Regions from separate parts of the Homo sapiens genome. Here region 2 is reported to be linked to region 1. The links are microRNA targets in miRTarBase. Many come from high-throughput screens and were not tested one by one. Region 1 holds a microRNA gene; the other region holds the end of a gene's coding sequence.

Region 1 (5,176 bases):
TGCAATGTAATGCATAGTTTGTGTTATACAACATCAGACCATAAAAGTATACTGACAAGTTGTTGTAAAGAACACCAAACTTTGTTTGTCCTGATTATGACTATTATGATCTCTGTTTCTTTGAGACAGGGTCTCACTCTGTAGCCTAGGTTGGAGTACAGTGGTGCAATCTCAGCTCACTTCAGCCTCAACCTCCCAGACTCTAAAGATCCTCACACCTCAGCCTCCCAAGGAGCTGGAGCTGCAGGCGCATGCCACCATGCCCGGCTAATATTTATATTGTTTCTAGAGACGGGGTTTTGCCCTGTTGACCAGGCTCGTCTCGAGCTCCTAGGCTCAAGCAATTGGCCTGTCTTAGCCTCCCGAGTGCTAGGATTACAGGCAGGAGCCACTGCACCTGGACTGACTGCTTTTTTTTTTTTTTTGAGACGGAGTCTCGCTCTGTCACCCAGGCTGGAGTGCAGTGGCGCAATCTCAGCTCACTTGCAAGCTCCACCTCCCGGGTTCACACTGTTCTCCTGTCTCAGCTTCCTGAGTAGCTGGGACTACAGGCGCCCGCCACTGCGCCTGGCTAATTTTCTGTATTTTTAGTACAGATGGGGTTTCACCATGGTCTGGATCTCCTGACCTTATGATCCGCCCACCTTGGCCTCCCAAAGTGCTGGGATTACAGGCGTGAGCCACCGCGCCTGGCCTGACATGACCTCTTTTATGATGGGATTATTGCTTAGTATTTAAGGCAAAATGAAGTATAGGTAATAAAAGCAATGAGGATTGGAGCAGAGATTTATTAAATCTGACTGGCAGGGAAGGGGACATATCTATGAGATAAAAGAATGGATCTCCATAAAAATATCTTATCATTTCTCATAACTTAAAAGAGGTTTCATTTTTACTTATTTTGAATGTTAATAGAAGCTAGTTTTTGTTTCTTATTGTAGATGTGTGTTTATATTAACTCATTATTTTATAAACCAAATGCTGTACTATATTTTTATTTACTCACCACTGTACTAATTAGGGCAATATTTTTAAATTGATTTTTAAAAAATTTTCCCATGTATCCTACATGCAAATAGTGCATGGAAAATACATGTATAGTTTAAAGAACAGTAATAATATGGATACTAGTATGTCTCCACAGTAGCAATCAAATACTATTTACTTAAAACATGTAGTATGTCTCCTCCCAGAAGTAATTATAGTCTGGACTTTTGTGTAATCCTTGCTTTACTTTTCTTCAGAATTGAATTATCTATATTTATATTCCTAAGTAATTTTTATTTTACTTCGTAGTATGTCTCCTCCCAGAAGTAATTATAGTCTGGACTTTTGTGTAATCCTTGCTTTACTTTTCTTCAGAATTGAATTATCTATATTTATATTCCTAAGTAATTTTTATTTTACTTCATTTTTTTAGGGTGTTTTTTTGTTTTGTTTTTGTTTTTGAGGCAGAGTCTCGCTCTGTCACCCAGGCTGGAGTGCAGTGGTGCTATCACGACTCAAGTGACCTCCTGGGCTCAAGCGACCTTTCCATCTCAGCCTCCTAAGTAGCTGGAACTACAGGTGTGTGCCACCATGCCAGGCTATTTTTTGTAGTTTTTGTAGAGATGGGGTTTCACCCTGTTGCCCAGGCTTGTCTCAAACTCCTGGACTCAAGCAATCCAATCCATCTGCCTCAGCCTTCCAAAGTGTTAGGATTATAGGCATGAGCCACTGCACCCAGCCTGTTTTTTAGTTTTTTAAAAATTGAGTAACAAGCATAAGCCTAGTTTTATAAGAAGGCTCAGATGAAGGCTTTCTGAGAATGTTACCTGAATAGAGATTCTAAGTCATACTCTGATTTCAGATTTAGCTTCTCTGAGAGTTTACAAAAGCCCCTCTAGAGAATTCAGTTGGACAGGTCATAAGCCAGTTCTGATAAACCTAGGGGTCCACTACAGTTAGAATATCTGACACATTTGGCTGGGCATAGTAGCTCACTCCTGTAATCCCAGCACTTTTGGAGGCCAAGGCGGGCAGATTACCTGAGGTCAGGAGTTTGAGACCAGCCTGGCCAACATGGTGAAACCCTGTCTCTACTAAAAAAAAAAATACAAAAACTTTGCCGGGTGTGGTGGTGGGTGCCTGTAATCCCAGCTACTTGGGAGGCTGAGGCAGGAGAATCGCTTGAACCCAGGAGGCAGAGGTTGCAGTGAGTCAAGATCACACCATTGCACTCTAGCCTGGGTAGCAACAGCGAAACTCCATCTTAAAAAAAATAAAATAAAAAGAATATGTGACACATTCGCAGTGGATGTTATGTGGGAGTGTGCTCAGTCGTAGTAGCAGACTACTCTATATATATTCTCATTCTAGGCTTATGGTGATTTACCCCTATTTTTCACAAGTAGGTCAGAATGTTTCTGCTGGATAAAATGATGTCATTAGCTGATCTAGGTAGTGGCACATAAGACATGGAAGGGAGAGCTGGAATTTCATTGACACATAGTTGAAACAAGATAAATACAGATTTTAAAATCCAGTCTGGGTCACTCAGGCATTCAAAGACTACAGAGAGGCGGTAGCAGGTAGCTTAATGATAATAGCCTGCAGTATGACTTTCTTTGGAAATAACACTGCTGTAGTCTGGACTGGTTTCCCTCTATATCTGTTGCACAGCTATTTTCCTAGGGAGATCCCATTCTAGGGATCTCCTTTAATGTAGTTCTTGGATTTCTTTGTTTTTGGCATCTCAGGTTCCTCCCCACCCCCATACTTTCATTTTGGTGGAGCACATTCTCTAGTAGCTTCTAAAGAACAAGTGCATGAGATGGAATTTTTAGAGATTGGCTGCATTTAAATATCTGTATTTATTTTTGCAAATATCTTTATTCTATTCATAGTTTGGCTGGATTGGAAGTTTTTCCTTCAGTATTTTATTGGCAGTGTTGAATTGTTTTTTTGCTTCCAGTATTGCTTTTGTGAAGTCCAGAGCTCTTCCAATTCCTGATTCTTTGTATGTGACTTGTTTTATTCTTTATTTTTTGCTTTTCTGTCTCTGGAATCTTTTTTTTTTCTTTTCTTTTTTTGAGATGGAATCTCACTCTGTTGGCCAAGCTGGAGTGCAGTGGCACAATTTTGGCTTACTGCAGCCTCTGCCTCCTGGGTTCAAGTGTTTCTCCTGCCTCAGCCTCCCGAGTAGGTGGGATTGCAGGGGCCTGCCACCACGCCTGGCTAGTTTTTCTATTTTTAGTAGAGATGGGGTTTTGCCATTTTGGCCAGGCTGGTCTCGAACTGCTGACCTCAAGTGATCCACTCACCTCAGCCTCCCAAAGTGCTGGGATTACTGGCATGAGCCACCATGCCCTGCTAGGAATCTTGAATCTTTGTTTTTCGTATCCAGAAATTTAACTCTGAAATATATCTACACAAGGCCAAAGGAAGAGAACAGATATATCCACAGTACACTTGGCTGTTCTCTTTCTTTAGCCTTGTGTAGATATATTTTCATCCCCTGTGATGCCTACTTGCTAGACTCTTTCATTCTAGCAACTTCTGTCTTTCTGTTCTAGGCAGTTTTTTTGAATGATTTTCTTGATGATTTCCTCTCCTGCATTTTACTGTTCTCTCCTTTTTAATTTTTGTTCATTGTTACTATTTTTGAGATGAGGTGTTACTATATTGCCCAGGCTGGTCTCAAACTTCTGAGCTCAAGCGATTTTCCTGTCTCAGCCTCCCAAAGTGCTAGGATTACAGGCATGAGCTACTGTCCCAGCCCTGCCAAATTTTTTTTTTTCTTTAATTGAGACTGTGTTTCACTATGTTCAGCCCAGGCTGTTCTCACACTTCTGGGCTCAAGCAGTCCTCCTGCCTCAGCCTCCCAAGTAGTTGGGTAGCTGGGGTATAGGTGCATGACACTGCACTTGGCTGTTATCTTTCTTTGGCCAGCCATTATTTGATATTATACCTTCTGTAATATACTCTAATATGCTCACCTTTTAATTTCTTGCTTTTTATTAATTTTTTTGTCTTTTTATTTCTTTGAAATTTTATCTGCTTTGTCTTTTAATCCTTTTGTTGACTTTTTGCTGTAATGTTTAAGTTTTCAATGATTTTTTTTTTTTTTTTTTTTTTTTTGAGACTGAGTCTCACTCTGTTGCCTAGGCTGGAGTGCAGTGGCATGATCTCGGCTCACTGCAATCTCTGCCCTCCAAGTTCAAGCGATTCTCCTGCCTCAGCCTCCCGAGTAGCTGGTATTACAGGCGCCTGCCACCGCACCCAGCTAATTTTTTGTATTTTTAGTAGAGATGGGGTTTCACCATCTTGGCCAGGCTGGTCTTGAACTCCTGACCTTGTGATCCACCTGCCTCAGCCTCCCACAGTGCTGGGATTATAGGCGTGAGCCACTGCGCCCAGCCTTTCAATGAATATTTTTAAATTAAACTAGTTTAATTTTTCAAGAGCTCTGTTTTCTGTGTGTTTTGTACCACTCTGTTCTTATAGATGGATGCAATACCTTACCTTTCGGATTTTGATCTTTCAAAGGATTTTATAATTTTTGGTTTTTTCAGTTACCTCTAATTTGCTTTTTTCTGTGTTGTTGTTTTGAGCTCTTCCCTATTAAGAATTTTTTTTCCTGGCTGTCTTATGATTATGAAGGAAAGACTAAACTGATTTGGAAATTGCAAGCATATGGTTGGCACTTGTTGACCTTGAGTTTCACTATCGGGTGATCTGGTTGGCCATGTCCTAGGGAATTCATAATATGAAGTCTTTAGGTCTTTTTCTCTTAGACTAGTTGGCTTCCAGAGAAAAGAGTTCCAATCTCTTGACTGGAGGGTGGTAAGAGAATGGTTTCCAGTGTTCTAGGATCTAGTTGAAGAACAGAGAGTGGGGTGGAGGATTCTTAGTGGTTAGATATGTTCATGAATCCCCCTAATTTCAGCATCGCATCTGTACCTGTGCCTTCAACAGTTGTTAGCATCTCCCAGGCTAGGAGCCCTCTCCTACTGTCTTCAGAGAATAAAGCTCTAGAAGGGCAGTCACCTTCCAACCTGAAGTGAGGTGGGGATCTAGGCATCTAAGTAATTTTTAGTCTTCACCCAGTGCTCCTTGTATGAGGCTCCCCACTGCCCTTTTTAATTTTCATAGGCACTAGGGCAGTCAGTAATTATTGAGGTTTCTATGGTAAACT
Region 2 (5,000 bases), not on the chromosome of region 1:
TCGCCTTTTGAATTGATTAGAAATATTTTGGTGACCTTCAAAAAACCAGTTTTAGTTCAATCAGTGGTGAGTCACAAGTCATATTGTGAGGTTATATGAAATTAATGAGTGATAAAGAAATGGGTAGAGGAGCCATGTTGACTTCACCTTGGAGGACAAATCCACTGCAGATGGCTTGGGATGTGTAAGTTCAGGATCTAGCAAGCTGTAGTCTCCGATGTGGTTGTTAAAAGCTGATCCACTGATCTCCTATTTCCTAAGTTATCAAAAGAGGTTATTGAACAATGGTTTTCAAATTGAGCTGCACATTAGAATTACTTTAAAATTATATATAGATAGCTACCCTTTCCCAGTAAAATGAGAAATTCTTATTTGATTGATCAAGGGACCTAGATCAGAATTTGTTTTAAACTCCTCAGGATCTGAATGTGTAGCCAGAGTTGACAATTACTGTTCTGGAATTTGTTGGGGGGTATTCTAGAAAGAAGTCCATAAAAGAAGGTTAGAGGCCAGATACGGTGGCTCACGCCTGTAATCCCAGCACTTTGGGAGGCCAAGGGCAGGTGGATCACTTGAGGCCAGGAGTTCAAGACCAGCCTGGCTAACGTGGTGGTGATGCACACCTGTAGTCGCAGCTGCTCGGGAGGCTGAGGCATGAGAATCGCTTGAACCCAGGAGGTAGAGGTTGCAGTGAGCCAAGATTGCACCACTGCACTCCAGCCTGGGCAACAGAGTGAGACTCTATCTCAAACAAACAAAGAAAAAGAAAAAAAGAAAAGGTTAGAAAAGATGAGAGATGATAAAGGGTCCATTTGAGGTTAGGTAATATGGTTTGGTATCCCTGTAGTTAAAAGTTTTTGTCTTATTTTAGAATACTGTGATCTATTTCTTTAGTATTAATTTTTCCTTCTGTTTTCCTCATCAGGGAACCCCAAGAGCATCCAATAGAAGCTGTGCAATTATGTAAAATTTTCAACTGTCTTCCTCAAAATAAAGAAGTATGGTAATCTTTACCTGTATACAGTGCAGAGCCTTCTCAGAAGCACAGAATATTTTTATATTTCCTTTATGTGAATTTTTAAGCTGCAAATCTGATGGCCTTAATTTCCTTTTTGACACTGAAAGTTTTGTAAAAGAAATCATGTCCATACACTTTGTTGCAAGATGTGAATTATTGACACTGAACTTAATAACTGTGTACTGTTCGGAAGGGGTTCCTCAAATTTTTTGACTTTTTTTGTATGTGTGTTTTTTCTTTTTTTTTAAGTTCTTATGAGGAGGGGAGGGTAAATAAACCACTGTGCGTCTTGGTGTAATTTGAAGATTGCCCCATCTAGACTAGCAATCTCTTCATTATTCTCTGCTATATATAAAACGGTGCTGTGAGGGAGGGGAAAAGCATTTTTCAATATATTGAACTTTTGTACTGAATTTTTTTGTAATAAGCAATCAAGGTTATAATTTTTTTTAAAATAGAAATTTTGTAAGAAGGCAATATTAACCTAATCACCATGTAAGCACTCTGGATGATGGATTCCACAAAACTTGGTTTTATGGTTACTTCTTCTCTTAGATTCTTAATTCATGAGGAGGGTGGGGGAGGGAGGTGGAGGGAGGGAAGGGTTTCTCTATTAAAATGCATTCGTTGTGTTTTTTAAGATAGTGTAACTTGCTTAAATTTCTTATGTGACATTAACAAATAAAAAAGCTCTTTTAATATTGATATACTGTCCTTTTTAACGCTTTAAAAACAGATTTTGAGGGGAGAAAAGTATTGTTTCAGTTTTGCTTTTGATAAAAATATAATTTGACTTCTTTGAACTGGATTTTTCTTTAAGGCTTTGCCAGTTGTGGAAGATAAGCTATTTTGGGGGTCTTTCAGTATTTAATTGTCATTAATAACAACAATAATAAAAGCAATAATAATAACTAATGTTTTTGAGCCAGATATCATGCTCAATGCTTCATTACATTTTTTAGCTTATTAACAATAAGGCCTTTTAAAATTTCTTCAGGAAAACCAAATAGGAACAGTAGAAAACATTGAGGAAGACATTCCTTTTTTTTTTTTTTTTTTTTTAAAGACAGAATCTCACTCTGTTGCCCAGGCTGTAGTGCAATGGCACGGTCTTAGCTCACTGCAGCCTTGACCTCTCCTGGGCTCTGCCTCCCAAGTAGCTGGGACTACAGGCACACACCACCATGTCCGGCTAATGTTTTTGTATTCGTAGAGAGCATTTTGTCATGTTTCCCATGCTGGACATTCCTAGTAAAAGAAAAAATGGGAAGAATATTTTAGAATGTAATTCTACTGTCTTTTAAAATAGGAAGGGCCGAGAAATTGATTAAAAGCCACCTTTTAGAAAAATAACATGAATGCTATGAAATACGAATGTGCTGTGTGTGGGGTAGCTTTATTATGTATGGTGCTAATTATGGTGTCAATTCGTGTGGATTTGGGGAGGTTTTGTCTTGATTGCTTTAGTTAAGTGAGTTCATCTTATAGGAAGTGCAATATCTGAACTCTTCCTAGAATGGACAGATAATATTTCAGAAGCTAACCCTAGTCAGTGTTTGTTTTTCTCTTAAAATATTCCTGCAGTAAGCTGCACAAAGACTACCAGCTTTCACTTGAAAATAACTCACAAAGCCCCAGAATTACTGTGTTCCGCAGATTTACTGCATACTTTGGTGCCGTCGCAGACACAAGATAAATGCTGGGTTAGAAATTCTGTCTGGTAAAGCAGATAAAATGATAACTTCTCAACGCAGATTTATCTTCAGAGTGGGAATGGCATTACAGTACACAGCCAAACTCAGCTGTGAAACATTTTGCCACAAGATGGGGTTCTTGTCATCAAAATACATTCTAGGTGCTTTTATTGCTGGATAAATTAGGTTATAAAAGCCAACACTTGAATTAATTTGGGCATTAAGAAAAATTGGCAGTTGTAACATAGTAGAATAGTGTGTATGCTGGGGAAATTGAGAGTACAAATGCAGGGCTCAACATAAACAGTTTGTTGCCCCTGGATGTGTGGCAGTAGTAGATTCCTGAGTCTGTTTAGACTGACAAACTTTGGACTAAATTGAGGTTTTCTGAAATTGAGCTGCACCTAAACCCATTCCCGCAGAATGTGAGTGAGCTAGAGGGCACGCTGCCATCCTGTGTATTAAAATCAGCATCTCCGCATGAAATTGATGTTAGGCATACAGCATATATATACATTTTTGGATTATTTATTTGATAACAAGCATGATTCACATTTTCCCCTTGTTTTGTCTTCAGTGTTTGTTTTCACCTCTGTTTAGGTATGGATTTATTTTATTATTTTATTTTATTTTATTTATTTTTTTGAGACAGAGTCTCGCTGTTGTTGCCCAGGCTGGAGTGCAATGGTGCAATCTCCGCTCACTGCAACCTCTGTCTCCCAGGTTCAAGCGATTCTCCTGCCTCAGCCTCCTGAGTAGTTGGGATTACAGGTGCACACCACCACGCCTAGATATGGATTTATTTTTATTCCTCTTGTTCAGGTCTTATCTCTGTGTTCTTCATTAAGAAAATTTTGGATGTTCTTATTTTGTTGAGTATTATCTCATCCCCACTGTCTGTTCTTTCCTTCTGGGGTTTCTTTTATACCTGTGTTGAACCTGTCCTGTTTCATGTATTTTAGGTTTCTCCACACTATATTCTCAGTTAACTCCTTCGTATTTATCTCACTGATTCTGTTCTCAGCCCTGTCTTATCTGTTTATTCCAGCCATTGAACTTTTTAGGCTTCATTTTTTTGTTTCTGAAGTTGTCTTTGATTCTTTCTCAAATTTATCTTTTTCATAATTTTTTATTATAGTTTTTATTCTTTTTATGAATCATTTTAACCATATTTTATAGTCTCAATTCTATTTTTTTGAGTTTTGGAGAATGCTAATTTTTCTGTTAGCTGTGTCTGTTGACTTTCCTAATGGTAGTTGGCTTTCTCATGGAGTTTTTAGGATTGTGAACACATCTCCAGCAAGGGCTATGTTGTGAGTGATCCGTTTCATGCGTGTCTGTGTGAAGAGACCACCAAACAGGATTTGTGTGAGCAACACGGCTGTTTATTTCACCTGGGTGCAGGCGGGCTGAGTCCGAAAAGAGAGTCAGCGAAGGGAGATAAGGGAGGGGCCGTTTTATAGGATTTGGGTAGGTAAAGGAAAATTACAGTCAAAGGGGGTTTGTTCTCTGGCGGGCAGGAGTGGGGGGTCACAAGGTGCTCAGTGGGGGTGCTTTTTGAGCTAGGAAAAGGACTTTCACAAGGTAATCTCATCACTTAAGGCAAGGGCCGGCCATTTACACTTCTTTTGTGGTGGAATGTCATCAGTTAAGGTGGGGCAGGGCATATTCACTTCTTTTGTGATTCTTTAGTTACTTCAGGCCATCTGGGTGTATAGGTGCAGATCACAGGGGATGCGATGGCTTGGCTTGGGCTCAGAGGCCTGACATTCCTGCCTTCTTATATTAATAAGAAAAATAAAACAAAATAGTGTTGAAGTGTTGGGGCGGCAAAAATTTTTGGGGGTGGTATGGAGAGAGAGAATGGGCGATGTTTCTCAGGGCTGCTTCAAGCGGGATTAGGGGTGGCGTGGGAACCTAGAGTGGGAGAGATTAAGCTGAAGGGAGGTCTTGTGGTAAGGGGTGATATTGTGGGGGTGTTAGAAGAAACACTTGTCGTATAGAATGATTGGTGATGGCCTGGATACGGTTTTGGGTGAATTGAGAAACGAAATGGAATAACAGAAGGAGAAAAACAGGTATAAAAGGTCTAAGAATTGGGATGACTCAGGATATCTGATTAGAGAGTGCCTAAGGAGATTCAGCATAGTCCTGCCAGCAAAGATTATTTATTTACTTCAAGAGTTAAGAGTGGCAGTTTGGGGATAGCACCAGGAGATATCAGCTGTGATGGCTTGGAGAAACAGTGTAAACCGGCAGTGTAAACAAGAGCAGGGCATGTATGAGTA

What was found. Region 1 holds the annotated microRNA hsa-miR-4753-5p (CAAGGCCAAAGGAAGAGAACAG, at 3,412-3,433, shown strand). A microRNA usually pairs through its seed, bases 2 to 8, with sites in the 3' UTR of a target mRNA and lowers its output. Matches are read on the target gene's strand: a 7mer-m8 pairs with bases 2 to 8, a 7mer-A1 pairs with bases 2 to 7 and ends in A, and an 8mer does both.
Region 2: miRTarBase lists LMNB1 as a target of hsa-miR-4753-5p. Seed matches in the 3' UTR shown: 8mer at 1,096-1,103.

Annotation. Positions count from the first base shown.
Region 1 is chr1:235,188,343-235,193,518 of GRCh38, reverse strand. It overlaps MIR4753 (microRNA 4753), which reads left to right and starts at 3,403; the gene lies at 3,403-3,485. The region is part of intron 19 of ARID4B (AT-rich interaction domain 4B); the gene reads left to right.
Region 2 is chr5:126,835,298-126,840,297 of GRCh38, forward strand. It overlaps LMNB1 (lamin B1), which reads left to right. Exons shown (of 11, transcript NM_005573.4): 11 at 926-1,723. The coding sequence ends at 967. Among named protein-coding and RNA genes, the nearest start is that of LMNB1, 61 kb to the left of the region's middle. RefSeq lists enhancers at 3,559-4,303, 4,304-5,000.